Homo sapiens: one gene and its partners. The protein of the gene in region 1 interacts with the protein of each later gene in a biochemical or structural test. Each region holds a gene or a part of one and is shown in the gene's direction. Other genes may lie near its edges. The genes, in order: UBE2A, RNF20, RAD18 and UBA1.

Region 1 (7,356 bases):
GTTGAAATCTTCATGAATGAAATTTCACAATTTTTTTGGTTTTTTTGAGACAAGTCTTGCATTTTTGCCCAGACTGATCTCAAACTCCTCACTTCAAGCGATCCTCCCACCTCCACCTCCCAAAATGCTGGGATTACAGGCATGAGCCACTGTGCCCAGCCCACTTTTCTTTAAATTGAGGAGACTTATCCTTTCTGGACCCCTGCTCTTGGGTAGGGGTGGTGCTTGGCTGTGAAGAGGGTATTTCTTCAAGATGTCAAGGTGAAAAAAGGGTAGAAAGAATGCTTGGCCAAACTGTGCTAAAGTTAGTATGTTCTAGCCTGATAATCATCATGCTGGAAAACAATCTTCTGTATTGCTGCTTGCTATGACAACCCTGCTTCTGCTGAGGAATGTGGGGGCACGGTGTTCCTGCAATGCAGTTTCATTCCTTAGTCAGAGAATGCTACTCCCATGCAGGTGCCAGGGGGCTTCCAACCATTTGGGTCATGCTCCTGAGTTTTTTTGTTTGTTTGTTTGTGTTTTGTTTTCTGAGACGGAGTTTCGCTCTTGTTGCCCAGGCTGGAGTGCAATGGTGCGATCTCAGCTCCCTGTAACCTCCGCCTCCCGGGTTCAAGCAATTCTCCTGCTTCAGCCTCTGGAATAGCTGGGATTATAGGCATGCACCACCATGCCCGGTTAATTTTGTATTTTTAGTAGAGACGGGGTTTCTCCATGTTGGTCAGGCTGGTCTCAAACTCCTGACCTCAGGTGATCCACTTGGCCTCCCCAAGTGCTGGGATTGCAGGCTTGAGCCACTGAGCCCAGCCCTTAGTTTTCTTGAAAGGAAGAAAGTCCAAGAAAGGAAGAGAAAGGGGGTTTCAAAAAACAGACAAGCTCACAACAAACTTACATACATCTATATCCTTCAATAAATTTCAGACATGTATATCCAGTAGCAGGAGCTTCTCAGTCCCTTTCATACTTTTTAGTACGGTACATGCCGCTTCTTAATAGGGTATTTTCTTTTTCTTTCTCTTTTTTTTTTGTCTGGTCGTGTCGCCCAGGCTGGAGTGTAGTGGCATGACCTCCGCTCACTGCAACCTCCGCCTCCTGGGTTCCAGCGATTCTTCTGTCTCAGCCTCCCGAGTAGCTCGAACTACAGGTCCTCACCACCACGCCCAGCTAATTTTTTTGTATTTTTAGTAGAGATGGGGTTACCTCATGTTGGCCAGGTTAGTCTTGAACTCCTGACCTCAGGTGATCTACCTGCCTCGGCCTCCCAAGTGCTGGGATTATAGGCGTGAGCCACCATGCCTGGCCTCAAAAGGATATTTTCTTTTTTTTCTTTTTTTTCTTTTTTTTTTTTGAGATGGAGTCTTGCTCTGTCGCCCAGGCTGGAGTGCAGTGGCGCGATCTCTGCTCACTGCAAGCTCCACCTCCCGGGCTCACGCCATTCTCCTGCCTCAGCCTCCAGAGTAGCTGGGACTACAGGCGCCCACCACCACGCCCGGAGAATTTTTTGTATTTTTAGTGGAGACGGGGTTTCACCATGTTAGCCAGGATGGTCTTGATCTCCTGACCTCGTGATCCACCTGCCTTGGCCTCCCAAAGTGCTGGGATTACAGGTGTGAGACACCGCGCCCGGCCAGGATATTTTCAATACATCTCTCTCATGCTCAAACACCTATAAAAGCTGCCTAAATTCCCCATTCTCGCATTTGAGGGCATTTAATCAACTTCTGTCACCCTCACTTTTCCTAGCTGAGGTCTCATCATTCCCCAGCCAAGAACCTGTCCATTAGCCAAGCTCATCTGCCCACGGGTTTAGCTCCATGCCCTTGTCTGTGCCATTGCCCCCATATAAACTGCTTAAGTTCTTCTCTCTCAAGCTCCGCTTTCATCTCTGTTGAAACAAAATTGAAATACACCCATTTCAGGAAGCTTGTCCTGATCCCACCAGAATGACGATTCCTCTGCTGTGCAATCTCTCAGCATCTGTGGTTTCACACACTTCTACAAGTTGAGGATCTCAAATCTGAAAATCTAAAATCCGAAATGCTCCAAAACCTGAAACTTTTATAATGCAAATAATTCCAAAATCTGAAAAAAAAAAAAAAAAAAAAAGGAAATCTGAAACCGTTCTGGTTCTGCTGTTGCTGTCGTAGGCAGACTTCTAAGATGCTACCCTCCCCTGAGATTCTTGGTCCTTGGTATATACACACACTTTCTCCCAGTTATTAAATGAAATACTAATCTAGGTTCTGCAGTGAAAAAATTTAGCAGACATAATAAAGGTCCCAACTTAGATGTTTTTAACATAGGGAAATTATCCATGGGGTGGGCCTGACATAATCTGATAAGCCTTTAAAGTAGACTGTGCTCTTCCTGAAAACAAGATTCAAAGAGTGAGAGGGATGTGGTGGGAGAGAAATTCTCTGTTGATGACTTTGAAGATGGAGTAGGCCACTTGGCAAGGAATGCAGGCGGCCTCTAGGAGCTGAGAGTAGTTCCCAGGTGGCAGCTAGTAAGGAAATAGGGACCAAAGTCCTACAACTGCAATGAACTGGGCTTGGCCAACAACTTGTAATTTGTTAAGCAGTGATGAAAACGAATATACTTGCTTTTGTAGATCTTGCTTTTGTTGATTTCATATGTGTGTATGTGTGTGTTAGTAGACTGCAAGTTCTTAGATGAGAGGAAAAAAAGTTTTTTTTTTTTAATTTTTGTACCCCCTTCCTACTACAGCCATAATGTGATGCTATTAGGGAGACTTGCCTTAACTGATATGTTGGAGTTAATGGGAGATAGAAATCCTTGACCATGAAAGTACCTGTTGTTAAGCAGCAGCTAGAATCACTACCATTGTCAAGTGCCTCCTGCTTCTCATGTTAGAAACAAATTCCTGCACATCTGATATCTTCTGGACATCTTCACGGGGATGTCTCACCAGTCCCATGAACTCAGTAAGTCCCACCCAAAATTTCCTTTTCCAAACTTGTCCCTCTCTCTCTATTCTGTAATTCTGTTAATGGCACCTTCAAAACCCCAGTTATCTCGGGGCTTAGAGTTTCAGCCACTGTTGACTCCTTCCTCTCTCTTGCCCCATATTCAGCCTGTTGCCAAGTCCTCCCCATTCATTCATATCCTCGCCTTTATTGTCACTGCCTGCTTCAGTATCTCGCACCTAGATACTGCAAGAGTCTCCTGCCTGCTCTCTTGAGACCAATCTCTGATAAGGACAGCTCTAATGATGTCACTTCCCTGCTCAATGGACTTCCAAGGAATCCATTAGCTTGGCATTCAAAACTCTTGATGACTTAACCCAAATCTACCTTTCTCCTATTTTCAATAATTTTTAAATGTGTATTATGCCTATCTTCTAAGTTATTTTGGGTTGACCTTTAAAAATTATCCTTTAAAACTGTTATTGCTTTTGCAGGTCCACGGACTGTGACTCTTCCTGCAACCTGCAGCTTTTCCACGTTCCTTTTACTTCAGACCCACTGTCCTTGCAACTCCCTGCAGTCGGATAGTCTCATATCTTGGACTCTTCTGAACATAAATAGCCGCTTGGCTTGTTGAACTACCAAGGGGAAATGTGGTTCCAGAGCCAAATTGTGAGTGCCCAAAACAAAACAGAACAAAACAAAACCCTACTCCGCCTGCCTTAAGCTCCCATTCCCTCCCACAGGACATACAACACTATTTCATTCTGCCCTGGGGTGATCATTGGCCTAAACGTTGAGCGCCCAATCCTGCATTCAATCCCACAGCCCCGCCCCGCCCCCCCGTCATAGTCAAGGCCGATTTATTCTTTTGATTTTCCGTGATTTTAACCAATCACTCCTCTCCCCACCCCTCCGACCCCAGTCTCCGGTGTCCGAAGGGGTTGTGCACCCTAGAGTTGCCGCTTTTTGAGAACCGGTTTTACCTCCGCCCACTCCTTCGTCCTCTAGTTTGGGACTTCCAAACTTCTCCCCTCTCCTCCCCGGGCATAGTGCGCGCTTTCATGAATGATCTGGTCACAAAACAAACAAAAACGAATAGAAAAAGAAAAAAAGAGAAAAAGAAAAAAAGCCGAAAACTTCCCAGGGTTTGCCTTAGAATTAGCAGGTGGGGATGGACCCCGTTCCACCACGAGCTCCTCCAGCGCCCGGGGCTCCGGCGTACCCTACGCCTCTGCGCTCGCGGCCCCGCCCCGGGCCTCCCGTGGGGCTTTAATGACATAAGCAACTTTCCTCGCGCACCCCCCGCCCCGTCTTGGTACGGCCTGTCCGGCGCTCGACGTTCCACCCCCCTCTCTCTGCTCTCAGGTTGGTTCAGCCCCCGTCTACACTGGGGTGGTGCTTAGCCGGCGCCAGACCGACCCTCGACTTCGGAGAGGCAGCGCGGTTCCTCTGGGTGCTTCCGCCTCCCCTTCTCCTGCTTCTCCAGCCTCTTCGGCCTCCTCGCCCGCCGCGGGAACCCGAGACCCCAGTGTATGCCCCACCCCTGACCCCGCTCGCGACATGTCCACCCCGGCTCGGCGGCGCCTCATGCGGGACTTCAAGAGGTAAACCGAGGGGACGGCCGAGGCCGGGGGTTGCGAGCTGGGGCACAGGGCGGGTCCCGAGGCGCGCCGGGCGGGGAGGGCTGGGGAGCGGCCGGGAGCGGGCGCCAGTGCCGGCCTAGGGGGACCCCTGTCTGTCTTCCCGAAGGTTGCAGGAGGATCCTCCAGCCGGAGTCAGCGGGGCTCCGTCCGAGAACAACATAATGGTGTGGAACGCGGTCATTTTCGGGTGAGTCTGCGTTCGTGGCGGTGGCGAGAAAACTGGGGACGCGAGCAGCTTCGGTCTGCGCTCCGGGGCGGGCCCCCCGCGGAGGCCGAGCGGGTAGGGGAAAATGTTTGGGTCTGGCTGGGCCTAGGCGCCTCCCCGGAGCCTGTGCCTCGATTAGCTCAGTTCCCGCTGCCAGGGGGAACCGCTTGGGGTTCTAGGGGGGCGGGGCGGGGAGTGGTGGCGGTTAGGCGCGGCGGCTTGCCCTGTGTCTCTGAGCCCGGGACATCCATTTGTAGTGGCTTCCGACCCCGGTAGCGGTGCTGGAGATGGCAGAGCTCGGGATAGCCATCTCAGATGAAGCAGGGAGAAGGGGGCCCCTTAAGTGGGAACTGACCATTTTTCTCTGTGTTGCAGGCCTGAAGGGACCCCGTTTGAGGATGGTAAGAGAGAGTTTCTTTACCCACTTTTCAGGAGCCTGGTCATCTGGGGAAAGGGTTCCCAGTCATCCTGGAAGTGTCTCCTGCTTAGGAACCTGCCTCTGCCTAGCCTCTGTCTGCTAAAGGCTTGAGTGGAATGCAGTGTGTGGCTGGTGGTTCTGGATATTGTATGCTTGACTAGAACTGCACCTTTCTTCTTGCTTTCTTAAAAAAAAAATCTGTGTAAGGCAGTCACTTTTTAAAAGGAGCAATCATAGCACTGGTATTAAGGATTTTTGAGGCTTGGGCTGTAATTCTGCTAAATTCAGCCCTCCATCACTGAATTAGTATAAACCCAACCAGTTGCTGATAGGCAGCAGAGACCCCAGAGACCATCTGGTTCAGAATTCTACCCCAAGGGCAGGAGTTGTGTTCAGCAGGTGCTTGGTAGATGTGTGTTGGATGTTGAGTGGATGCGAGAATCCCTTGCGTACAACTGTCTGGTTTCTACAATCTGACATTGAATGCCTGTCAGCCTCACTGCTCTAAGATGGTCTTAAATGCCTCATTTGAGTACAGTATTCTTTCTTATTTTTAAGTGAATTTGCAGTGTGTGCTTTCATCAAGACGTTATGATGAGTAATTTCAAAGCAGCTTCACAATTGAAGTTAGCCTTAATGTACCCTTTTGATCAGTGTCCTGCCTACCTGAAAGTACTACATGTACCAGTAGGTACATAATTTTTAATTGATTTAGGTTTAACTTTTAAAAACACGTGTAAATTGCTTTTTAAAAACTTTCTGATTTTAGATAATTATAGATTCATATGCAGTTGCAAGAAATAATAGAGACACCCTTTATACCCTTAACCCAGTCCTCTACCCAAACCCTCCCATTTGGTAACATCTTGAATGACTAGACCCTATCACAACCGGAAAAATGACACTGATAGTTCTACACTCAGTTGTGTGTGTGTGTGGTTGTTTTTTGAAAGTTTAATACATTTAAAGGATGATTAAAGTATTTGAACTCATGAAATTCTTTAATATTTGAGGTTTTAAAAAAAAGGAAAAGGATCTTTCTGTTATTTTTTTCCTCAATGATTTCCTTCGGTCACATAGCATTTATACACACACACACACACACACACACTTCAGTTTGAAGGTGGGAACAAAAACATTTCTGCAAACTACTTAATACATACTTATGTTGCTGAGCCGGATTGCTTTTTGATGCTACCAGTCCACAAAATGTTGTGAGGTAAGTCAATTTCAACTAAGTCTGTAATTCATCTCAAGTACTTAGATTTCCCCAGGAAACTGTGGACAGTCACCTGAATATTTTTAGCTTCCTCTTTACCTTTACCCCCTGGGTAAATATCATTACTCTTCAGGGCTGCAAAGAAAAGAAATGACAGCAGGAAACAGTGATTGTAAGGGCATACTACTTTGGCGCAGTTAATCATTTGAACTGATTTGTAGCAAAAAACTATAGCTAGACTTAATTTTCTTCTACCAGATTGGCACTAGTTTTTTTGTTTGTTTGTTTTTTGTTTTTGTTTTTTTGAGACGGAGTTGCGCCCTGTCACCCAGGCTGGAGTGCGATGGTGTGATCTCGGCTCACTGCAACCTCCGCCTCCCAGGTTCAAGCGATTCTCCTGCCTCAGCCTCCTGAGTAGCTGGGATTACAGGTGTGCGACACCGCGCCCGGCTAATTTTTTGTATCTTTAGTAGAGACGGGGTTTCACCATGTTGGCCAGGCTGGTCTCAAACTCCTGACCTTGGGATCCACCCGCCTTGGCCTCCCAAAGTGCTGGGACTACAGGCTTGAGCCACCGCACCCGGCGAGCACTAGTTCTTTATACCTGAGCTTTAAATGTACAGATTAACTGTGTTTGCTTTAGCTCTAGTAGGCCTTGTTTTCATTGGCTTCTTTTTTCCTCGTTTTACTCTGTTTTATGCTGGGCACAGCTTTATTAATAGTACATCACTTTGCTGGGGATTGGCTACCTAAATATTTCAAGGGTGCTTCTCTTAAGTGGTATGAATTGAAAAGGTACTTACAGAGTCCATTATCTACCAGGACTGTCACCTTTGACATTACTGGTTCTATTTTTGATGATGTGTATCTCCATCCTAGCATTACTGAAAGGAATTACTCAGGCTGATTTGTTCTGTTGAACAGTCTGCTACCGATGGATG
Region 2 (7,807 bases), on another chromosome or scaffold:
GCTAAGGATAATGGCCTTCAGCTGCATCCATGTCCCTGCAAATGACATGATGTCATTCTTTTTTTATAGCTGCATGGTGTCTCTCGGCTTTTTTTTTTTTTTTTCTTGAAATGGAGTTTCACTCTTTTTGCCCAGGCTGGAGTGCAATGGTGTGATCTCGGCTCACTGCAACCTTTGCCTCCTGGGTTCAAGTGATTCTCCTGCCTCAGCCTCCCGAGTAGCTGGAATTACAGGCGACCACCACCATGCCCAGCTAATTTTGTATTTTTAGTAGGGACAGGGTTTCACCATGTTGGCCAGGCTGGTCTTGAACTCCTGACATCAGGTGATCCGCCCGCCTTGGCCTCCCAAAGTGCTGGGATTACAGGCATAAGCCACCGCGCCCGGCCTTCTCTCAGCTTTTTAAGAGAGCATTAAACTAAATGGGGCTCCTCTGACAATTTGTGACTACCAATTAGCTCTCACGTTTCCATAGACTGTTAGGACACCTTGTCCTCACTCTTTAAAAAAGGCAGACCTGGCTCTAGCTCCCCTGAGTAAGCCACCTCCCTGGTCCCCAGAAATTACAAAGTAAGAGGGCTGAGTATGATGTAGTATAGTGGGCCAGGTGATCTGGGGAGAAGGAGGCAGGGGTATGGAAATGAAGGAGAAAGGTGTGGCGAGGGTGAATGGTAGGAGAAGGGAAAGGTGAGGACAAGAGGAGGGGGCTCGTTTTTGTAGGACACTCCCAGGTGGACCTGGACATCATTACCTAGAGCAGTGTTCCTTAAATGTGCCCAGATAGGAAGCATAATTACAAAAGTAAGAACTTGCATTTTCAGAGAGCTTTCCCCCGGAAATTCTGATTCAGCAAGTCTAGAGCAAGGGCTATGGTATCTAAATGTTTCTGTTTAACGAGTGATACCATGCTAAGTAAAATACAACTTGTTTAAAATAAGGGAGTTCCTGAATTATGTCTGGCATACAATCCAATCCAGATTTCATGGAATATTGGAATGCCTGGAGATATAACAATCTTAGAACAAAACATTTGTAAAGCAGTGTAGAAAAAAACAATAAACAAAAATCCAAAATATCTTAATTTTGTCCATTTTGAGAGCATTAAGCCTACCCTCAGTAGTTGTCCAAGTTTCTAAGAGTTAGGGTGAAGACAGGACATGACTGATGCGCAGTACTGTGCAACCAAAGCTTTAGAAAGGGAACTGGGTAAAGAGGCGTGTCGCCTTATGCCACCTTGTGGCAGAATTGGGTAGTTAATGAAGACCGGCTGGAGGTCGAATGACTTGGGTCCTTCAACAAATACTCATTAAGTCATCATTTGAAAAAAAAAATCACTTAAAATCTGAGTCTGTTTTCTCCTTTTAAAAAAGATTACTATTTGCTTAAATTATGTTTTTGATACAAGCAATGAGACTTTAAAAGTGAAATAAAATATTAAGTATTCTTTTTATCATTGCTAATGCTGTTTTCCCATTTATAAGTGAGGGAAAAACTTATTTTTCCAGGGATATTCCTTTTTCTCTTGATTAAGATGGTGAACAGAAGGTGGCTGGTCAGAAATGAATGGGGAATGCATTCAATGAGAGAGATCTCTGCCATCCTCCTCTTCATCTATTCTATTTTCCCAATTCGCTAGAGTGAGACAGGCTACTTTGAAGATGTCAGATGGCTGACTGAGGTGCTCAGAAAAGACAGATCTCACCAGTAGCTGCAGAATATGGTTACCTACTATGATGGTTAATTTTATGTGTCAATTTCGCTGGGCCACTGTGCCCAAATAGTTGGTGAAACATTATTCTGGATGATTCTGTGAAGGTGTTTTTGTTTGTTTGTTTGTTTGTTTGTTTTTTTGGATGAGATTAATATTTAAATTGGTAGACTAAAGCAGATTACCCTCCAAAATGTAGGTAGGCCTCATCCAATCAGTTGAGAGCCTTAATAGAACAAAGACTAACCTCCCCTGAGCAAGAATGAATTCTGCCAGCAGACTGCCTTTAGACTTAAACTGCAAATCTTTCCTGGGGCTCCAGGTTGCAAACCTGCCTTGTAGATTTTGGTTTATCCAGCCACCACAATCCTGTGAACCAATTCCTTATAATGTCCCTCTCTCTCTTTCTCAAATCTCTTTCTACACACACACACACACACACACACACACACACACACACACACACAGAGTTGATTTTATTTTCTGGAGAGCTGTGACACCTGTGAAGGTGTTAGATAACTGGAACTTTTGAGAAAGACATATATCCCAGTTGCTAGAGAATATGGTTACCTACATGGTGAGAATTGAAAGGTACTAGAAAAGTCTGCTCTCTTTGTAGAATCTTCTCTAACACTCAAGTGTGGGTTGAAGTTAGGGGTGACCTAACTCAGTTGATTGGCTCCATTTCCCTGAGATTCTCTTGGTTCTGCTCACCCCTATGTGGTCGCTCCATTCTCAAGAATGATCTCAGGAAGCCTCCAACAGTTTCAGCCTCACACAGAAAATCTGGAAGATAAAAATCTGCTTCAATTCTAGTATTCAAAGAAATTCACCCTGATTAAAGTGTCAATTGCTGACTAGGACTTTGGCTTGGGAAATGGAACTTAGTATTTAAGACAATCCTTGGAGATTGGGGTGAAATCAGTTTTCCCTAAGACTTAATGGAATCAAAGTGCTATATGGATACATGAAAAAAATCCTGGTTCTGCTAAGGTGAGGGAAGGGGAATAGCTGTTGGGTAGATCACCAATAATGTCCACCAGACACTTACGTAGTACCAGCAATTGATTTATCACAATGTAACACACAAGTGATGATACTCAAATTAAACTATACTAGTGCTAAGGAACCAGTAAAGATTAGTGGGGATTATGGTAAACAAGAATAACATGATCTATTAATAAAAGAGAGCCACGCCAAGCGTGGTGGCTCATTGCCAGTAGCTGTGGCTCAGGCCTGTAATCTCAGCACTTTGGGAGGCTGAGGTGGATGGATCGTCCGAGGTCAGGAGTTTGAGACCGGCCTAGCCAACATGGCGAAACCCCATCTCTACTAAAAATACAAAAATTAGCCAGGTGTGGTGGCGTGTGCCTGTGATCCCACCCACTTGGGAGGCTGAGGCATGGGAATTGCTTGAACCTGTGAGGTGGAGTTTGCAGTGAGCCGAGATTGTGCCACTGCACTCCAGCCTGGGTGACAGAGTAAGACTCTGTCTCGAAAAAAAGAAAAAAAAAAAAAAAGAAGAAGCCACTACTTTGCTCTAAGCAATGTGACCATGCAAAAATATAACCCTTCTGTTGCAAGATCATCAACATTTTTTAGAGAAACTGATAATTTGGATTTTTATGTAAAATAGCCATATTTTAAATGTTGGCAACTAAGTTCATTTTTGTTCTTGTTTTTAACCACGCAGGACAGCCAATACTGTCTAAAATAAACAAAGCATAACTGTTGGCTAAATGCAGTCTGTGAACCTCTAGTTTTCTGGGCTAGAAAAACCATTACTTGCCATTCAGTAGTTCTATGAATGAAAGGCTTGCTAAGAGTAGAGGAACCAAAGAAGATGAGAGAATGAGTGTCATTGTCTCATACAATGCTTTTCGGCAGGTGTGTCCCCACTCACATGTTCTCAGGCTCCCACTTCACGGAATGAAATGTGAAGTCCACTTGGGGCCAGTTAATTCTTTCCAAGATAGTCAAGGTGTTCCACTGCCAGGCACCAGGAACACTTGTTTCCCTGGTGTTGACCATCTTACTTCATTTACAGGTAAGCCCTAGCAGGTACAGGGACAAAAGTCTTCACACTAACAGAAATCCAGTGTAGATTAGCTTCTTTTTTTCCCAAGATGCCTAAATTCTATTTTTTAAAAAAGATATAGCGATCATTCTTCCATTTCTAGACCCTTAGCTGACGTCATTAGGTAGTTTATCATAGTTCTGCGAGACATACAGCTTTTCATTAATAGGTTAGATTAATTACCGTCCTATCATTAAAACGCATTTAGTTTAACTGAATGGAAAATAGCAGTTTGTCATAAACTTAAAAAAAAAAATCAATGCTTAATTAGCTTAAAATAGACTAGTACTGAGATCAGAGACTGATTGGCGTTTATCTTTTCCCTGGACAATTTCTTGTTCCCAAAAAAGCACAAGGGCAGTAGTTGTCACTCCTGCTTACGCATTAGAATCTAGTGGATGGAAATGCGGGGTTTGGGGGGAGGAGATGAGGGGAACGCTTTTTTAAAAAAGCTTTTGTCCAGGCCAAGTGATTCTAATGTGTAGACAGGGCAGAATACCGCTCCCTGTGCGGGGGAAAAAATCCCCAACATCTGAAATTCCTCAAATCCCTCAGATTCTCTCCAGAACTCTTCATTTCAGCACGTAGGGGTACCAACGAACAATTTTCTGAGGTGTCTGAGGCTAGTCATGTCCCCGGAGATTGACGGGACCGTCAGCCAATCGGCCGTCTGAACGAGTGATGGCAACCCCAATGACAAGCAACAGAATGAGGAACTTTATCCCCGCAGAAAGACCAGATCGCAGTAGCAAAGGTCAACAAGTCAACAAAAGCCAAGGGCTCTCCGTCAGGCATCAGCGAGGCCCGAGTACTCTTAGAGGTCGTAGCCAGGAGAGGGTCCCGCGCTTGCCCAGCGTTGCTAGGGAGGCGGCGCTTGCTCAAGCTTCTCGTGCCCTCTCCGTACGTCACTTCCGCCCGGCGGGGTCTCATAGTCCTATGGGCTGGGTTGAAGCCACTTCCTTTTTTCTTTCCCTTTTTCCTCTCCGTGGCCCCGCCTCCCGGAAGTTCTGCCTTGTCTCCGCCGCGGGTCAGGGGTGAGAGCTGGAATCTCTGCACGGGCCTTGGTGAGTAACTGCTGCGAGTTCTGTTCCCGCGCGGCGCCAGTTCAAAGAACTTAGGTTAGATCACGCTTAGGGCCCAACAGGACTGTGCCAGGCCTCAGGAGTCTCCACCCTCTCCAGTTTTGGGGCCGTCAGTCTCCTGGGCCTGCAATTATCCACGCTGAGGCTGAGGTCTTTGGCTTTTAGCGAGTTGGATTGCAGCCTTGTTCTGCTTCTGTGTCTTCTCTCTCCAGGCGAGGTCCTACTGAGGTTGTTGCCAGCGATAGTCCTCTCCTGGAGCTTGAATTGGAAGCAGAGTAGTCTTGTTAGTCTCGGTGATGGCTGCGTTGTTTCCTGAAGTAGCCAAAGTGCTTTAGCATCCATTCCGCCTCCTTTGAGCACCCTGGGAGGTAGGCAGGGCAGACGAAAAATATATTCGTTAATATTGTGCAGTTGAGGAAACTGAAGCTCTTGGCGAATTCACTGTTTCAAAGCAACACGGCCTCTAACAGGCAGAACTGAAATTCGCACCCAGGTCTAACTAACGTAGGGTTGCATAAAACAGTGGAGAGAGCGTTTGGAAATAGGGAAAACACTGCAAACGTTAAAGAAGAGCTGGGGTTTCTGAGTGCTTACTTTGTGTTCGGCTTTGTGCCAAATTCTTTCTATAATTATATCATCCATTTTATTTTATAATAAGCATAGGAAGTATATACTGTGGTTATTTATTCCTGGGTTAGGAAACTGAGGCTTAGAGATGATAACTGACTTGTCTAGTACTAATGACTTTAGTAGGCATTTCACAGATCTCTTTCAGCTCTGTGATTCTTTCAACACTGTAGTATTAACTTCTGGCATAATCAAACTGCCCTTTTCTGATTTTGGCATTACAGGAAGAGAGATTCCAGAACTTTATTTTTGGTCTCTTCACCCTTTGCCCATTGTCTCATTTCTTATCACCATTCTTATCACCATCCTATTTAGAAATTTATAGTCATGTAAATTTAGCCTTGACTTTCTTTTTTTTTTTTTTTTGAGACGGAGTCCCGCTCTGTTGCCCAGGCTGGAGTGCTGTGGTGCGATCTCGGCTCACTGCAAGCTCCGCCTCCCGGGTTCAAGTGATTCTCCTGCCTTAGCCTCCCGAGTAGCTGGGACTACCGGCGCCCGCCACCACGCCTGGCTAATTTTTTGTATTTTTAGTAGAGACGGGGTTTCACCGTGTTAGGCAGGATGGTCTCGATCTTCTGACCTCTTGATCCGCCCGCCTCGGCCTCCCAAAGTGCTGGGATTACAGACATGAGCCACCGCGCCCGGCCCGCCTTGACTTTTACTCTACAATTTAATTTTTTTTTTTTTTCCTCAAAGAGAAATATGGAGATGGTTGTGGAATTAATGGATCCAGGTTAAAGGGTTGGCCAGAAAAGTTGCTAGTTTTTACTCTATTGTTTTACTCTATTGTTGCTTTGCTTACATATATTATGTCAGTTTCTGCCTTTTTTTCTATCAGGAAAACGACTGTCTTCTTCTGCCAAAATGTCAGGAATTGGAAATAAAAGAGCAGCTGGAGAACCTGGCACCTCCATGCCTCCTGAGAAGAAGGCAGCTGTTGAAGATTCAGGGACCACAGTGGAAACAATTAAGCTAGGAGGTGTCTCTTCAACGGTATGAGGAAACAGTGCCATGAAAGTGTGCTTGTCTTCTGTCAGTTGCAACTTGAAACTAAAAATTCATGGAAGCTTTCTGGAGTATGGGGAAGCTATTTGAAAAGAAGAGGGAAATAAAACAGGCTGAAAGTAGGTAAAATGATGTGGTAGTCAGTTCTAGAGGAGAGGTAGATTGATAGTTGTTCTTTGTTTTCAAGGTGTACTTATATTCTTTCGAGAATCTGGGAAGGTGGTGCCTGATACAACATTAACTATAGGTATTTAGCAGTGGGAAGATACACATTTATTTTTCATTCACTGAAAAAGTCAGTACCAGATTCTAAGAGACAGTTTAGCAATCATTGAGAGTATGGTGAAGAGTGAGAGTCTGAGACCAGATTGCCTGGAGTTGACTCTGAGCTGTACCACTTCCTAGCTGGCTGACCTTGTGTTATCCTTCCTTTGCCTGTTTTCTTGTCTGTAAAATGTAATTAGAGTACCTGCTACATTAGATTTTTATGCATATAAAATAAGAGTCCCTGTTAAGGGCTAACACTTTGCATTTAATATAGTAAATAGTCAATAAATGGGAGGCATTCATAGCTAATATTGGGCTAGATAATATAATGGTGCATAACATAGATATTATCCTTGCTCTTATGGAGCTGACAAAATGAGTATTATATACCAAAATCTCATAGTAATGTTATATATCTGTTAGACATCAGAAGTTTACAGGTTTTGATCTACGTCAAGATTTTGCTTTTTTGAAAATCAGACATGGGGATGTGATATTAAAATGTTTTACATTTTGTAAAATGCTTTACATTTGTATGGCTTGCAAAACCACATCTATTGCTTATTTGATTTTGAGGCTGAGGTTTATTTTAGAGAGGCTGATTTTTTTTTTTGAGTCAGAATAATAGGAACATTCATAGTGAGTTGTTGATGAAGTGTCATTTCTGAGGCTGCCTGAGGTTCTGGTACTTAATATTGCTGGCAGGAAGTGATTTTTGTTTTAGCACTGCCTTGCATCATGCATTCCAAAGGCATTTATTCACTCAATATATAAATATTTGTTGAGTATTTGTTATTTGCCAGACACTATCCTTTACACTGAAGACAGCCCCTAGACTTTAGTTTGTAGGGTAGCACTGACAAGGGAATAGACTGTTTAGAGTGGGGTATGTGCTGTTGACAGGGATAAGCACATACTTATGGGAAGCACATAGCACACACCCCAGTGTGGACTTTATCCAGAGGCAATGAGGAGTTAGTGGATAGTCTTAAGTAGGAGACTAACATGCTCTGACTTGTGTTTGGAGACTATAGAAAAGCA
Region 3 (7,204 bases), on another chromosome or scaffold:
TGTGCTAATAGAATGCAGGCCTGGAGCTTCTGGAGCCATGTTTGCCTCTCATGGGGGGAGCCTGCATGAGCGTTAAGTCGACAGTGAGGGAAGAAGATATAAGGCATTAAGAAAGAGTGATTATGGCCAGGCGCGGTGGCTCACGCCTGTAATCCCAGCACTTTGGAAGGCTGAGGCTGGGAGTTCACGAGGTCAGGAGTTCAAGACCAGCCTAACCAATATGGTGAAACCCCGTCTCTACTAAAAATACACAAGAATTAGTTGGGCATGGTGGCACACGCCTGTTGTCCCAGTAGGGAGGCTGAAGCAGGATAATCGCTTGAACCCAGGAGACAGAGGTTGCAGTGAGCTGAGATTACACCACTGCACTCCAGCATGGGCGACACAGTTAGACTCCGTCTCAAAAAAAAAAAAAAAAAAAGAAGAAAGAGTAATTGAGAGGGAAGAAGAGAGACCACCTGGATCAAGCCATACCTGAATACCTACCTCAGGTCTTTTCAGTTACATGAGCTAACACACTGCCTTTCTTGCTTAGGCCATTTTGAGTTAGCTTTCTAATTCAGCACTTTGAACCAAAAAGTCCTAATACAGTTCCCTCCCTTAAAAGTTCTTCCTGTCTGATCTCAAAGCTCTTCCCATCTGCAGACCTTGACTTGGACTGGGCATTCCTCTGTCTAGTGTACTTGTCACCTCTGCTTGGGCATATAGTAGGTGCTCAGCAAACACTTGTTTGAAGGATCAATAGGAGGGGTTGGGACTCCTCCTAAGAAGAGGCTTTGGTGACAGACAGGTAGCTGGCCTCAGTGAGAAGCTCCCAGAGGTGATGGTGGTCTGACAGGCAGGTGGACGGGGTAATGGGCACAGTCTGTAAGTGTAAACAAGACCTAGCTGTCCCAGGGCTGGGAGGGAGAGAATAAGGCAGGGTCCATGTCTGGGAGGAGTCAAGATAGGGGCCTGGTCACAAGGACACAGCAGGGCCTGCTTCCTAGAACTGGGGTCCACAGTAAGTGTGAGGTCCACAGCACTTTTACCTCACCCGGACTGTGCCACCAAGGTTCAGTCCCTGTCACCTTCTTCTACTGTACACTTTCCACTTTGATCCCTTCTTCACCCAGCAGCTAGAATGACCTTTGGAAAATGTAAATTACACCCCTGCCTAAAGCCTCTAAGGACTTCCCCCCTGTGCTTATAGCAACATAATATTAATGACAGCTGACACTCACACAGGGCTTAGTAGTTGCCAGGCACCCTTCTAGGCATTAAACCTAGAATAACTCCTTTAATTATCCCTACAAGGCAAATACTAATATTATCCCCATTTTGCAGATGAGAAAATTGAGGCACAGAGAGGTCAACAACTTACCCAAGTTAACATGGATTAAAATCTGAACTTTTTACTAAGGCATGGAACTCTCCACTTCTGGGGTCTTTGGGTCTTTGCATGGCTGCCTCTCTCTATCAGTTGGGTCTCTGCCCATATATCACTTCCTCAGAGGGAGCCTCCCAGATCATACAATTTACAGTGTCCCCTCCTCTGTCCATTTTATCACCCTTTTTTATTGTTTTTACATCAGTTACTGTTTTATGCAATTATCTTACTCATTTTTTTACAAACTCTCTTTTTTTTTATCCTGGCTCCATGCTCACCCCCAGGCTGCCAGCTCCTGGAGAACAGAGGCCATATCTGTCTTACTCACCTCTGTATTCTAGCACCTGGTACAAGTGGAGAGTGGCTCAATAAACATTTGTTAAAATGAATGGAGGAAGGGAGAGATGGAGGCAGGGAGGAAGGAAGAAAAAAAATAAGGAAGGAAGGAAGGAAAGAAGGAACGAAGGAAGGGAGGAAGAAAGGAAGGAAGGAAAGGGAGGGAGGGAGCTCCTTTAATATCCCCTCTCCCATAACTAGAATGAGGAAGATGGGGCCTAGAGGAAGAGAGAGTGCTGGGCAGAGAGGAACAGGATGAAGAGAACCTGGAAAGGAGCTCAGGGGCCACAGGACATCCCCAGGTTAATCCAGGGCAGGCCCCACACTCAGTTGGGAGAATGCTTCTCTAATTAGGGTTGTCAGATTTGGCAAATAAAAATACAGGATGCCCAGTTAAATATTTGAATTTCTGGTTAAACAACAAATAATTGGTTAATAGGTTGTGTGCAATATTTGGGGCAGGTTTACACTAAAATGTTGTGTGCGGTTCATCTGAAATTCAGATTTACTGGGCAACTTGTATTTTATCTGGCCATCCTATTCTGGCTTCTCGCTGTGTGCTATGTGCCACAGAAGATTCCACTAAACACTAGCCTGCTTTTATTTTACATGGAACATTTTGTTTTTAGTCCTGAATAAGGAAGTACAATCTCTTTATTGATCTAACAGAAGGAGAAAGTCCATACAAACAGCAGCTTGTTAAGAGGAGAATGGCTCCCAGGGTTAGATAAACACCCAAGACAAACGCCTTTTCCTGAGCTCAAAGTGCGCTTGTTCTTGAACTTTCCTTCCTGGGCCTAGAGGTGGGCTTGATGGGATCTATCACCCTGGTGCTGCTGAAGATGGCAGGAAGAGAAATGCTCAGCCTGGGAGGAAAAGATTTATGGGAATGTGGGCTTAGTCGGTGATTCATCCATTCATTCAGCCTCACCCACCAGCTATTGGCAGACACTCAGAGATGAATGGCACCGCATCCTGTCCTGGAGGCTCTCCATAGATAGGGAAATGTATTTTGGCCCCAGGACTAACAAGTACTGCCTCCTTCCAAATCTGTCTCCATGGTTGAATGCAAAAAGTACATTCCTGTCCCTGTCTTTTCTCTCTCTCCCTTTCTCCTTACCCATTCTTTCTCTTTTTTCTCATCTCCTCTCTCTTCCTCTCTCACCTTCCCAGCCATTTGTCACCTTAAACCTAATTACCTTGTCCAACTAGTAGTGTGAAAAAAACAATTACTGGTTCACTCAGGCCACGGACCTGGTCTTAAATGCTTTTCCTTTGTCTCTCCAAGACCCCACTTCCTCCACATCCAGAACTATCCGACATTTTCCAGCTCAGCCTGGCATTCATTTGCGTTCATTTGCATGCCGTTCTATGATTGGCTGATACAAAGTGGGGGGCGGGGGTGGACACCGTAAACCTCCATTCCTCATGCATTTAATATAACATGTATGAAAAAAAGTATCTATATTTATATCTCGTTTAAGAAAAAAATTGTTCAATGATACTTGTTAAAGCACAATAAGGAAGACTTAATCAGGACAATTCAAGTAGGTATAGAGACCACTGGAACTGTGTCTTGCAATTGGTGAAAACTGGGCTCAACTCTGAATACAACATGGGCAAATGGAAATTTATAGCCAGGAAGCAGGGTGGGGAGCAGTGCATGAAAAATTACTAAGAGGAAACATCAGAGGTAACAGTAGATTCTTGCTGAAGAGGCCAGGGTGATCAGACATCAACTGGGGGATGGTGGAGGATGAGGAACACATCAGATATCAAGAGTGATCACATATCAAAGGTGGGGATTCTTGGTAACTTGATTTAGCAGGGTTTTTTGCTAAAACTGGATTTTTACAGGAAGTACACAGATTGGCCTAGGAGAAGGTTCAGGAGCCTGACTAAAGTTTGCTCAAGCAAAGAATCTTCGTCAATCTGCATAGGAAATATCTAGAAGGCTATATGCCAAAGTTAATGGTGCTTCTCTCCGAAGAAAAAGAAAAACCGTGCATTAAAATTTTAATATGAATAAAAGCAACAGCTCCCATTTAAAGCCCAGAGGTCCTGTTTGGAATCTGACTCGAAACTCTATCCACTTTTTCGGGCGTAGGCTTCTCTTGTGTAAACTGACAATGATAACATCTACCTCCCAGTGTTGTGATACGGGAGACATAAAGTAATGGATATAAAAACTTCTGTTCAGAGCAAGGACGGATAGTCACTGCGATTAGGGTGGGCGACCCGGAGGGGGGTCATGAGCCTGGACCTTGACAGATCTGGTGAGGTCTGGATTTGGTTTGATTCCTGGCTATCTTTTCTTAATATTCAACTGGCTCTACGCTTTTTAACCATTCACTTTCTTCAAGGTAAGTGCGGCAGAAGCCTGGCGCATGCGCAGTACAAGCCCTTAAGCGGCGCCCCGCCCACATACTACTACAACTTCCGGCAGGCTCCGCGCCCGCCTCTGGCGCGTCGCGGGCTGCTGACGTAATGCGGTAGCGCGGGGAATTTCGAGTGGTGTTGGAGCGCCGGAGGCTAGTGGGTGGCTGACCCCCAGCATCCTCGGGAGCGACCATGGACTCCCTGGCCGAGTCTCGGTGGCCTCCGGGCCTGGCAGTCATGAAGGTGAGTGCTTCGGGGAGTTTGGGAGCTCCCGGGTGTCTGCGGGGGGAGGTCCCTCCCTTTGAGGAGGATGTCCTCGCCTTAAGGAGAAAGGATGAGGCGCGAGCGTCGCACTGGGCCCGGGTATCCGGCTCTGCCCTGCCACTAGCCGACCGCGTGGCTCTGGGTCTCAGTTTACTCCTCTGATAAGTGACAAGGACAAGCCTGGTGAGCTGAGGTTGGCAGTCTTATGGCACCAGCTATTCTGCGATCCAATCCCAACAATAACATGGAGAAAAACAGTTATTCCAAACAATGACATCGACAGCTGTTCTTTACTGAAAGCTTACTTTGTGTCAAGCACTAAACAGTGACACCGGACATGATTTTGGGTGGACACTTTATCAGATAACATGTATGTAATCACGTAGCCAAGCAGGTAGTCTCCTTTACAGGCTCTTTCATTTCTTCTGATTATTCTCAATAAACGTAGTGCTCGTTTGTTCTGACATACTGCCCCAACTCCTCTCTAACACACCTTCACTCTTCTCTAACAATTGCTCATGTCTCTTAAACAGAGATCAGGACTCAGGCTCAGCGCTGATCTTGCATTGCGTCTGATTATTTCACTTAAATAACATTTATTTTTGTGGCCACTTTCTGTTTTGGCAAGGCATACCAGTTTCCATTTACAGTAGTGGTGGGCCCTGGATTTGCTCAAGAGCAGATGCACTTTGCTGTGCTGGATAAAGATCAGTTGCTTGGTGTTTCTTCTTGCTCTGTGATTATTTCCGTTTCTCACAGTGGCTAAGATAGCCTTCTTCTCCCTCAGTTTTGTAGACTTGGGGATTATAATACCTGTCCCACTGACTCATAAATTTGACTTTAGAATTAAGTGAAGGCTAAAGTAAGTAGAAGGCCTTGTTCTTCCTGCTGTCATCAGTGACGTCTAGAGTGCTTGGGGACTTGAGATATCTGCATGATGAGAAGCTGACATTGTGAAATGATCCAGGAAAGCTGTAGTTTTGGAGTTGTGGGCTTGGCACCAGGATGCAGTGGAGAAGAGCACAGATTTGAGTTCCAGTGGTCCTGGGTGAAATCTCCTGTCTGCCTCTTGACTGTATGACCTTCGGTTAGTAACTTAACCTCTCTGAGCCTGAATTTCTTCAACTATAAATTAGAGACAAAAATAACAGTTCATAGGATTGATTAAATAAATTAGTTGATGTATGTGGGCACAGATTCTGCTGTGTATTCACTGTGCTTACTGCAGTGCCTGACACCAAGTGGGTGCTCAAATATTATTTGCTGCTTGATTGAAAGTATCTGGAATGTAGTAAGCATTCAATGAATATATTTTATTATTATTAGCACTGTGTTAAGTGCTTCTTTCCCCTTTTAATTTGTTGTCATGAAGCTTGACTTGGATAAGGAAAGTAAAAGAGCTCTGTAACCTGTAAAGCTCCTGCTTTGTAGATTTAAGCACACTTTACATATTCCCACAATTTCAGTGTTCTTTAGAGGCGGGTTCCATGTCTTCTCTGACTTTGGTATCTCACCACAGCACTGAATGTAGAGTTTGGCACCACAGAGCGTTCAGTGAGTGTTCAACCAGAGAGTTGATTGAGCCCGTATTTTTTTGCTCACATTGGAATCATGGAATCTTAAGGTTAGAAAACCAGCCCCTTTCAGTATTTTAATCTCCTTTATAACACATCTGCCAATTTCTCACCTAATTTTTGCTTGAACTCTTCCAGGCACAAAGAACTATCAGATCCCAGAAGCAGATCTGACTGAAGTTACTTCTTTTATTGAATAGAAGTCTGACTCAGAATCCATGGTTGCTAACTTAGGATTCACAGAAAGACTTTGGAGTCTCAAGTTATTTGTAAAATTTTTGCATGTATGTTTTTCTGAGCAGAGAGTCCATAGTTGTCATCCATTTTTCAAAGGGATCTGTAACCCCAAAAACTTAAGAGTATTTTTGTAATTATTACGTTTTTCCACCCATTTTCTACTTCTCCCTTTCACTTTCTCTCTCTCTAAACTAAAGAAATTTTGGGGAGTCTGCTGACCACTCTCTATTCAGGCATCATTTTTTGTTTAGTTGGTTGAGGCGCATGTGATATGCATGTTACTGTCTTGGAGTGACATGACAAGAAATTTGAACCAGAAATGGCTCATCTGATGTAGTGTCAACTTCCACAATTGTGCTCTGCAGATCTTTCAGAATCATTCCTCCACCAGAAGAGGATGGCATAGATAAGAAAGTGTGATATAATAGACTGGTTCTGGCTTCTGGGCCTGCCTCTGCTCTTAATTGATCTTGAACATAACCCTTTAGATTTTTGTGTCTGTGACAGCTTACCATCCACAATAATGGAAGATTTTGGCATTTTATTATTTCCCTGGTTTTACTTTAACAAAAATTTACTGTTTTTGGCATATTGTAAATGTAATATGTGTACACGGTAGAAAAAAATTAAAATTCAGAATAAGATAAAGGAGAAAAATAAAACCATCCATAATTCTACCACCCAGAGAACCAGTGTTTAACATTTTACCTTATTTTCCTTTGGTTTTTGTGCATTTAAAATTTGGGATCACTGTGGAGTCAACTTCTTGGGTTTGATCCAGCCAACTTAGGAACTCTGTAGACTTTATTTTTAAAATTGGGATACTGATGCTGTGGACTTCATAAGATTGCTATGAAGATTAAACTACAGAGTTGTTATTATTATGTATTATTGGCATAGGTTTGTTTTCTGATTTTTATTTTCCTAGGGCATTAATTATTCTTTGAAAGCATGTTTTTTAATGGCTGCATAATATTTCATCATATGGACCATTAGCGACATTAGTCCTTTTTTGTTTACATTTTTAAAATTCAGGTAATAGGTT
Region 4 (7,030 bases), about 72 Mb from region 1:
TTTGTCTATTTTCCTGCCTCCACAGGGCTCACTGTGGGACCACAGATGCACCCCACTATGCCCAGCTAATTCTTTGATTTTTTGTGGAGACCAGGTGGTGGTGGTGGGGTGTGTGTGTGTGTATGTTGGGGCGTGGGGGGGTCTCACTTTGTTGCCCAGGCTGGTCTTGAACTCCTGGGCTCAAGCAATCATCCTGCCTCAGCCTGCCAAAGTGATGGGATTATAGGCGTGAGCCGCCGCGCCCGGCCAAGACTCCATTTATTAAAAGGCTAAAGAATTTTGCCAGGCGCGGCGGCTCGCGCCTATAGTCCCAGCACTTTGGGAGGCCGAGCGGGCGGTATCGCCTGAGCTCAGGAGCTCTAGTCCAGTCTGGCTAACGTGGCGAAATCCCGTCTCCACTATGGTAACATGTAAACATAGAAAAGATAACAGTAAAATTTTTTCTGTGTTATAGGACCGTTGACCAAAATGTTATGCAGCACATGATTGTATATCCATAATTTATATTACTGTATATAGTCACAGATATCTATTATAATACGGGTTTGTATGTGAAACTATAATTTTACTTATTGTTATGTTTATGGTCTGTGTATCTTGCTAGAATGTCAGCTCCATGAGCCCAAGGAAGAATTTCCAGCACCTGGCCCATGTCAAATGAACTTTTTTGGCCACCTGAGTCTCGGTCTCCCCATCTGTAGGATGGGTGTGCCTTTCCATGTGGAGGCACCCACACGTTCCGTTTCCTCTTCCCACCCTACAGAGCACGGCTCCGGCAATTCCACAGCTCAGGCTTACATTTTCCCATATTCTGGACGCTGGTGCCCACCACGTGCACCAGGCACTGGCCAGACAGAACTACCACCCCCAGCATGCCGCGCGCATTTGGGCCGTACCACAACCTGTAGGGTCATCTGGGTCTGAAACGGGCACCAGCGACGCGGGAGCAGGGACTGACGCCCCTCTAGCAAAGCATCTGTGGTACATCCCAGACCCGGGGCTCTCCAAGGCCCCGCGCTTCCGAGCTCCGCGCAAACTCTGGCTTCTCTTGTACGACAGAGGTGGTTTGCTCTTCCGTTGCCCCGTGGCTTCAGCTCATCTTTGGCAGGAAGGCGAGGCTTCCGCCCGGCACAGGGGGTGAGCTGGAGCACCGTGCCCCCAAGCCTCTGGACAGCATTTGGAGGAGGGTGCTTCCCTAATCCCAACTTCGGGGAAACCCCTCATGGGCGTATTTGGAGCCTCCGGGCCCGGGGTGATATTTAGGGGGCGTCTGCTTTTGAGACCCTTAAGGGGTGCCGTTTGGGGACTTCGGGGTGGGATTTGGGAGTCTGTTTCGGGGAGCACCCCTCGGAGGCAGGGTTTGGGGGGCTTTGGGGAGATTCTTAGGGTCCGTGTATGGGCACCCTTGTCCGTGGAGCAGGATTTGGGTTATTCTTCAAGGGGAGAAGCAAAGCTTGAGGTTACTAAAGTCAAGGCGGGACTGGGGGAGGGCTTGTTTCAGGACGGGGTCCTGGTGACAGAACAATCGGGACCGACGTGGCATTGTGGAGGTGTCAGGCCTTTGTGACCTCTGGTTTTGTGATGAGGTCCTCCCCGCGCCTGGAGGCTCAGGACTGCGAGACTGGACACGTCGGGGGCCCAGATGTTTCTAGGGAGAGGAGCCTCCCAGCTCAGGCTAGGGAAGGGACACCGGAGCCCAGCTCTTCCTGAGCTGACGAGGCGCCACCCGGCCTTTATTCATTATTCATAATAAGGTGGGGCTGTGGTAGGCGGCAGTTTTTTTGCCTCTTTCGCACCTGGTCCGCTGAAGGTTCTCGGCTTGTGAATTATTCACGAGGGGCGGATCAGCGTGCCGAAGGGACGTGCTGAAGGGGCGTTCTGAAGTCTGCCGCGCAAACGAGTTCATTGATGATTCGCAAAAGTTAAGTAGCACCCTGAGTTTTCAGTGGCTTTTCTAGGGGTTCCGTGCTTAATTCATGAGGAGCGTGGCTTTTGCAGCTTTGTCTGCGTGATCCGCGGTTAGCTTTCCCTTGCAGGTACCAGAGTTAAAACCTGGCGTCTAGCAAAGGGATGAGGCCTCCTACATTGTTCATTTCTTATGGCCTGGTAATCCCAGATAATCAGCCGGCTCTGGATTCAAATCCCATCGATCCTTTCCAGTTGTGTGATCTTTGGCAAATCGTTTTGTAAGCCTGAATAATGGGTATGAGGATAACGATAAGATTAGCTTACACTCGTTTAGCTACTTAGCGCATTTAATCTTCACGACAATCCTAGGAGGTAGGTCATTATTACCCCCACTTTATAGATAAGGAAACTGGGACACAGGAAGGCTAAGTAATTTGCCTAAGGTCACACAATCAGTGAGTGGCTGGGCCGGGATTCAAATTGGGGTCTAGTTCCGCAATCTGTAGTCTTAACCAGATGCCATAATGTCTCCCCTCCCCATTCCCCTGCGCCGCCATTTGATAGTACTACTACTACTAATATAACACTTAGCATGTGCCAGGCACTGGTCTAAGCCCTTTCTACTTATTTCTTCATTTAAACTCCATCGCAAGGTAAGTTGCTGTTATTCCTATTTTATGGATGGGGAAGCAGTGGCCCAAGTTGGGGGTTTCTCTAGTGGCTGAGTATTCATAACTAATTTTATATTAATGTAAATATATATTTACATATCTTAACATATTACTTTTATATTAATATATAATATTTTAAAAATTTAACAGTGCCTTGTGCCAGCAATGTTCTAAGGCTCATCCCATAATTTATATTCTCTGATTTTCTTTTGTTTGAGACGGAGTTTCTCTCTTGTCGCCCAAGCTGGAGTGCAATGGCGCGATCTCGGCTGACTGCAACCTCTGCTTCCCGAGTTCAAGCGATTCTCCTGCCTCAGCCTCCCCAGTAGCTGGGATTACAGGCGCCCGCCAACATGCCCAGCTAATTTTTGTATTTTTAGTAGAGACAGGGTTTCACCATCTTGGCCAGGCTGGTCTCCAATTCCTGACCTCAGGTGATCCACCCGCCTCGGCCTCCTAAAGTGCTGGGATTACAGGCGTCATCTGATTTTCATAATAACACATTACTATCCTCATTTTACAGTTGTGGAAACTGAGGCACCTGCCAAAGACATGTAGTGAGTTTGGGTTTGATTGGACCAAGGCAGCCCTTGTTCCTGAGGCGGGGAGAATGGAGGGAGGCGTGGAGAGGGGAGGTGGGGGCAGGGAGTACACGTCCCCTGGGTTTTCTGGTGGCACTGCAGTGACATCTTTCATTATTCATGAACAGGAAGGCGTGCTCACTTTGCCTTGGCTATAGCATCGTAATCCCTATTTGCTGGGCAGGGCAGTCTTGGGTGTTTCTTCGCCTTATGCATAATTCATAAATTGGGTGGAACCTTTCTTGACCTCTCTGAGTTTCCAGGTTGAGCTACTGCAGCAGCATAATTCATTATTCAGGACCTGGGAGAGTGTGTTTTCCCTGCAGCAGCCCCATTTCCCTGCTTACAGTGTATTAGATGCAGCAATAGGCGGGCGTGCCCCTTTTATTCCAACCCACTGGGCCTCATGCATTATTCATGAGTAAGTTGTGGCCTGGGTCTCCTTGGCTTCCGGGCCCCTGCAAGATCATCATTATTCATGAATGGGGGTGTGTGGCTTCCATGTTTTAACATCTGCTTTCTGGTTGCTGGTTGTTAGTCTACCAACCACTCAACTTCATGCATAACTTATAATCAGGAAGCATGGCCTTAACGGTTTTTCTTCGCTTCCTTGACAGCCTGGCTGCAACAATTCATTCATTAGTCGCATTCCATGAGGCGTGGCCTCTGTTTTACCTGTTTTCGTTGTTACTGCCACAATGTCCACCAGGTGGTGCTGTTCCACTTCTAACCGAATGAATCGCAACCGAGTAGGGAACTTTATGCATGATTCATAAGTAGGCGCGGCCCGCTTGCATCCGGGTTTCTGGGGGTGGGGCCCAAGGTTTTGTTCCGGCCCCAGGCTCAGCGTCCGCCATCTTGTGTCGGCGGCTCGGCTGTAAGGAGGTGGCAGGGACAACCACAACCACAACGGCCGGGGGAGGAGAAGGCGGCAGCGGCGATTCTAGGCGGCCCAGGCGGCGGGGAGGAGGAGAAGGAGGAGGGTGGCGGCCGGGCTTGGCTTCGGCTCCTTGAGGAGTTGGCGGCGGCGCGACCCGGGGAACCGGCATTGGTAAAAAAACGTCCTTTCACTGCGCCTCGCCCTGGGCAGGGGTTTCGGGGAGGCACTGGAGGGCCCTGAGCCACGCTGCTGTCGGGGCGGGCCGCGGTGACTCGGGAGCCAGGAATCAGCGGAGTAGGGAGGGGGAGCGGATCCTGGGGCGGGGCCGACTTTCCCCGGCCAGGACCACTCCGGCTCCCTCTGGTTGCAAAATCTGACCTTGGAGTCGGACCCCCAGGATGTGCTTTTAGAGACTCACGCCCAACATCTCTAGTCTGGGACCTGACTCCGTCCCGAACCTTGTATCTCAGATCAGAACTCTTCCCCAGTCTCCAATAGAGATTTACGTGGATCAGCATTGCTGATCAGAGCTCCTCACCATTGAATGCCGTTAAAGACCTGCCCCAGAATCTCCTTTGAGACACTTCCTAGCTTCTCAGTATTTGTCCTCAAGGCTTCCAGGACGGGCTAGATCTCGAAGGGGTCCATAGGCCCTTTATCTCTGTAAGAGAGTCCTCTTTAGCATTTTCCTTCAGACCCCCATCCCACACACATGCTAGCCGCGCTCAGAGCTTCCAGGGGTACTAGACCCTGTGAAAGGCCATTTGGGCCTGGCCTTTGTGTCGGGGGCCCCTCTTCGCCACACGTCAGGTCTCCTAACCCCACCCTGGCCCTAGCATCTTCCATCAGAGACTCTGCCCAGTATTTCTACTCAGAGACCCCTCTTACCATCTGCCTTGAGAGACTCTTCAATTCCTAGACTCTGTCCTTTGACACTTTCTCTACTTTTATGGAATTTCTCGCTTTTTATACTTCCAGTATTCAGAGACTACTGAGAGGCCTCAGCATCTTCCCCATCAGGCACCTTGAACCCCCAGAGCCTTCCAGTGCACCAGATACCAGGGAGGAACTGTTTGGATACATAATCCTCCATCAAAGAGCCCCTGCGAGCATCTGCTCTTGCAGATCCCGTTGGCTTCTAGCCCCTTCCATCAGAGACTCGCCTCCCCAACCCCACCCTAGACCCAGCCTCTGCCTTCAAAAACCAACCTGGGTTCTAGCTGCTTTTTTCACAGATCCCTTATCCTCACATCAGGCCTCAGAATCTGCCCTCAGATCGTTTCAAGGTCCCTAACGTCTGCAGTCAGGGGTTTTCAGCTTCTGCTTTCAGCCTCCTTGGACCCCAGGATCATTGTCAGATGTCCCTTCCCCCCACAGGCCTTCTTGTTTTCTTTTTCTTTTTCTTTTTTCCGAGACAGAATTGTTTCACTATGTCGTCCAGGCTGGAGTGCAGTGGCGCCATCTCAGCTCACTGCAACCTCCACCTCCTGGGTTCAAGCGATTCTCCTGCCTCAGCCTCCCGAGTAGCTGGGATTACAGGCATGCACCACCACGCCTGGCTAATTTTTTGTATTTTTAGTAGAGATGGGGTTTCACCATATTGCCCAGGCTGGTCTCGAACTCCTGACCTCAGGTGATCCACCTGCCTCGGCCTCCCAAAGTGCTGGGATTGCAGGCGTGAGCCACCGCGCCTGGCCATGGCCCTCTTGTTTTCTACTGCAGTAGAAAACCCTCTTCTCAGCATCTACCTTCAGCGCCTCCATGGGGTCCTACATAATTGGTCAGAGAAACCCAACCCCATTTGGGGACCTAGCCAGTGTTTGCTTATTAACCTTTTTAAGGCCTGCACTATCTGGGCCCAGCTTCCCGTTTCCACACCCTCAGAGCAGCTGTGATACCTAGCATGTCCTGTCAGAGATTGACACAGGGCCTTTGTGTTCCATTAGAAACCTCTCCCAGCCCCTCACCATCCACCCTCACAGCCTCCTGGGACTCTGTAGTAGGAATGTCAGATACACCTCTCCTCTTGCATGTCCCTATCTATTATTTTTGGTTAAAGATTTCTCTCTGCTACCAGCATCTGTCTCCAGAGTCCTCCAGAGCCTCAACATCCTCCTGATGGAGGCTGCCTCTCCCCCCAGACCCCAACATCTTCCTGCTGCCTCCTCAGACTCTAGAATCCCCCACCCATTCCCTTTGCAGCTTCCATGGGGCCCAGCAACTGTCCTCCTACCTCCTTGCAGCCTTGGGGGCCTCCACTGCAATTTTTCAGCCTTTCTCCAAAAGATCCTTTTCCAGAGATCCGAATTTGAGTCTTTTCCTAATACCCTAGCCTAGTCCTTTCCCTCCCAGGACTTCTAACATCTCCTTTCCCATTTGTCTCAGAGCCTCCTTGCTCTTAGACACCCACTTCCTGATTCTCCTCTCACGTTCCCATGGACTTCTCAGTTAACCCCTCCCAGAAAGCTTGACATGCTCCAGCCCCCCTTCTCTATGCCCTAGCTTCTCCATCCTGCTAACCTGCCTCCTCTCACACCTCCAAGACTCCTCCCTCAAACCCTCTGGTTTGGGAATAGAGAATGCTTACGCTTGAAAATCTTCAGTTTGGAGACTCAGGTATGTTTAGAAACTAAGCCACAGCTCAGCTTTGCCAAACAGTTCACAGTGTGTATGTTATGGTGGGGGCCTGAGCAAATGTTGAGGTAGGAAGGGTGTAGATTGTTTTTCTGCTGGGGGTGGGGGATCTTTAGCTCCTCTGCAGAGTTTCTGTCCCAGACTCCTGCTTGCCTTGAGACAGGGCTGTTCCAAACCTTTGCAGTCAAAATCCACTTGAACAATCATCTGAAACTTCTTAGACTCTTGCTGCCTGCACTGGGGATCCAGAGGTGAAATGTCCAGATATTAAAGTGCTCTCTGGCCCTGGATCATCTCTAATTTATGGAGTGAGGAAATGGCATGTCCCAAACAAACTGACCAATGACAAGGCAAGG

What was found.
Region 2: the proteins of UBE2A (region 1) and RNF20 form a complex in vitro, tested with the Homo sapiens proteins (4 studies listed by BioGRID, with this or other methods).
Region 3: the proteins of UBE2A (region 1) and RAD18 form a complex in vitro, tested with the Homo sapiens proteins (12 studies listed by BioGRID, with this or other methods).
Region 4: of the proteins of UBE2A (region 1) and UBA1, one has a biochemical effect on the other in vitro, tested with the Homo sapiens proteins (6 studies listed by BioGRID, with this or other methods).

The regions. Positions count from the first base shown.
Region 1 is NC_000023.11:119,570,222-119,577,577, forward strand, and holds the start of UBE2A (ubiquitin-conjugating enzyme E2 A), read left to right. Parts: upstream 1-4,341; 5' UTR 4,342-4,490; coding exon 4,491-4,534; intron 4,535-4,679; coding exon 4,680-4,760; intron 4,761-5,153; coding exon 5,154-5,179; intron 5,180-7,356. UniProt on the Homo sapiens protein: E2 ubiquitin-conjugating enzyme that accepts ubiquitin from the ubiquitin-activating enzyme E1 and transfers it to a E3 ubiquitin-protein ligase. In vitro catalyzes 'Lys-11', as well as 'Lys-48'-linked polyubiquitination.
Region 2 is NC_000009.12:101,529,066-101,536,872, forward strand, and holds the start of RNF20 (E3 ubiquitin-protein ligase BRE1A), read left to right. Parts: upstream 1-4,787; 5' UTR 4,788-4,849; exon of another isoform or gene 4,850-5,235; intron 5,236-6,332; 5' UTR 6,333-6,358; coding exon 6,359-6,487; intron 6,488-7,807. UniProt on the Homo sapiens protein: Component of the RNF20/40 E3 ubiquitin-protein ligase complex that mediates monoubiquitination of 'Lys-120' of histone H2B (H2BK120ub1).
Region 3 is NC_000003.12:8,960,458-8,967,661, reverse strand, and holds the start of RAD18 (E3 ubiquitin-protein ligase RAD18), read left to right. Parts: upstream 1-4,189; 5' UTR 4,190-4,276; coding exon 4,277-4,327; intron 4,328-7,204. UniProt on the Homo sapiens protein: E3 ubiquitin-protein ligase involved in postreplication repair of UV-damaged DNA. Postreplication repair functions in gap-filling of a daughter strand on replication of damaged DNA.
Region 4 is NC_000023.11:47,189,814-47,196,843, forward strand, and holds the start of UBA1 (ubiquitin-like modifier-activating enzyme 1), read left to right. Parts: upstream 1-4,015; 5' UTR 4,016-4,211; exon of another isoform or gene 4,212-6,619; coding exon of another isoform or gene 6,620-6,656; exon of another isoform or gene 6,657-7,030. UniProt on the Homo sapiens protein: Catalyzes the first step in ubiquitin conjugation to mark cellular proteins for degradation through the ubiquitin-proteasome system.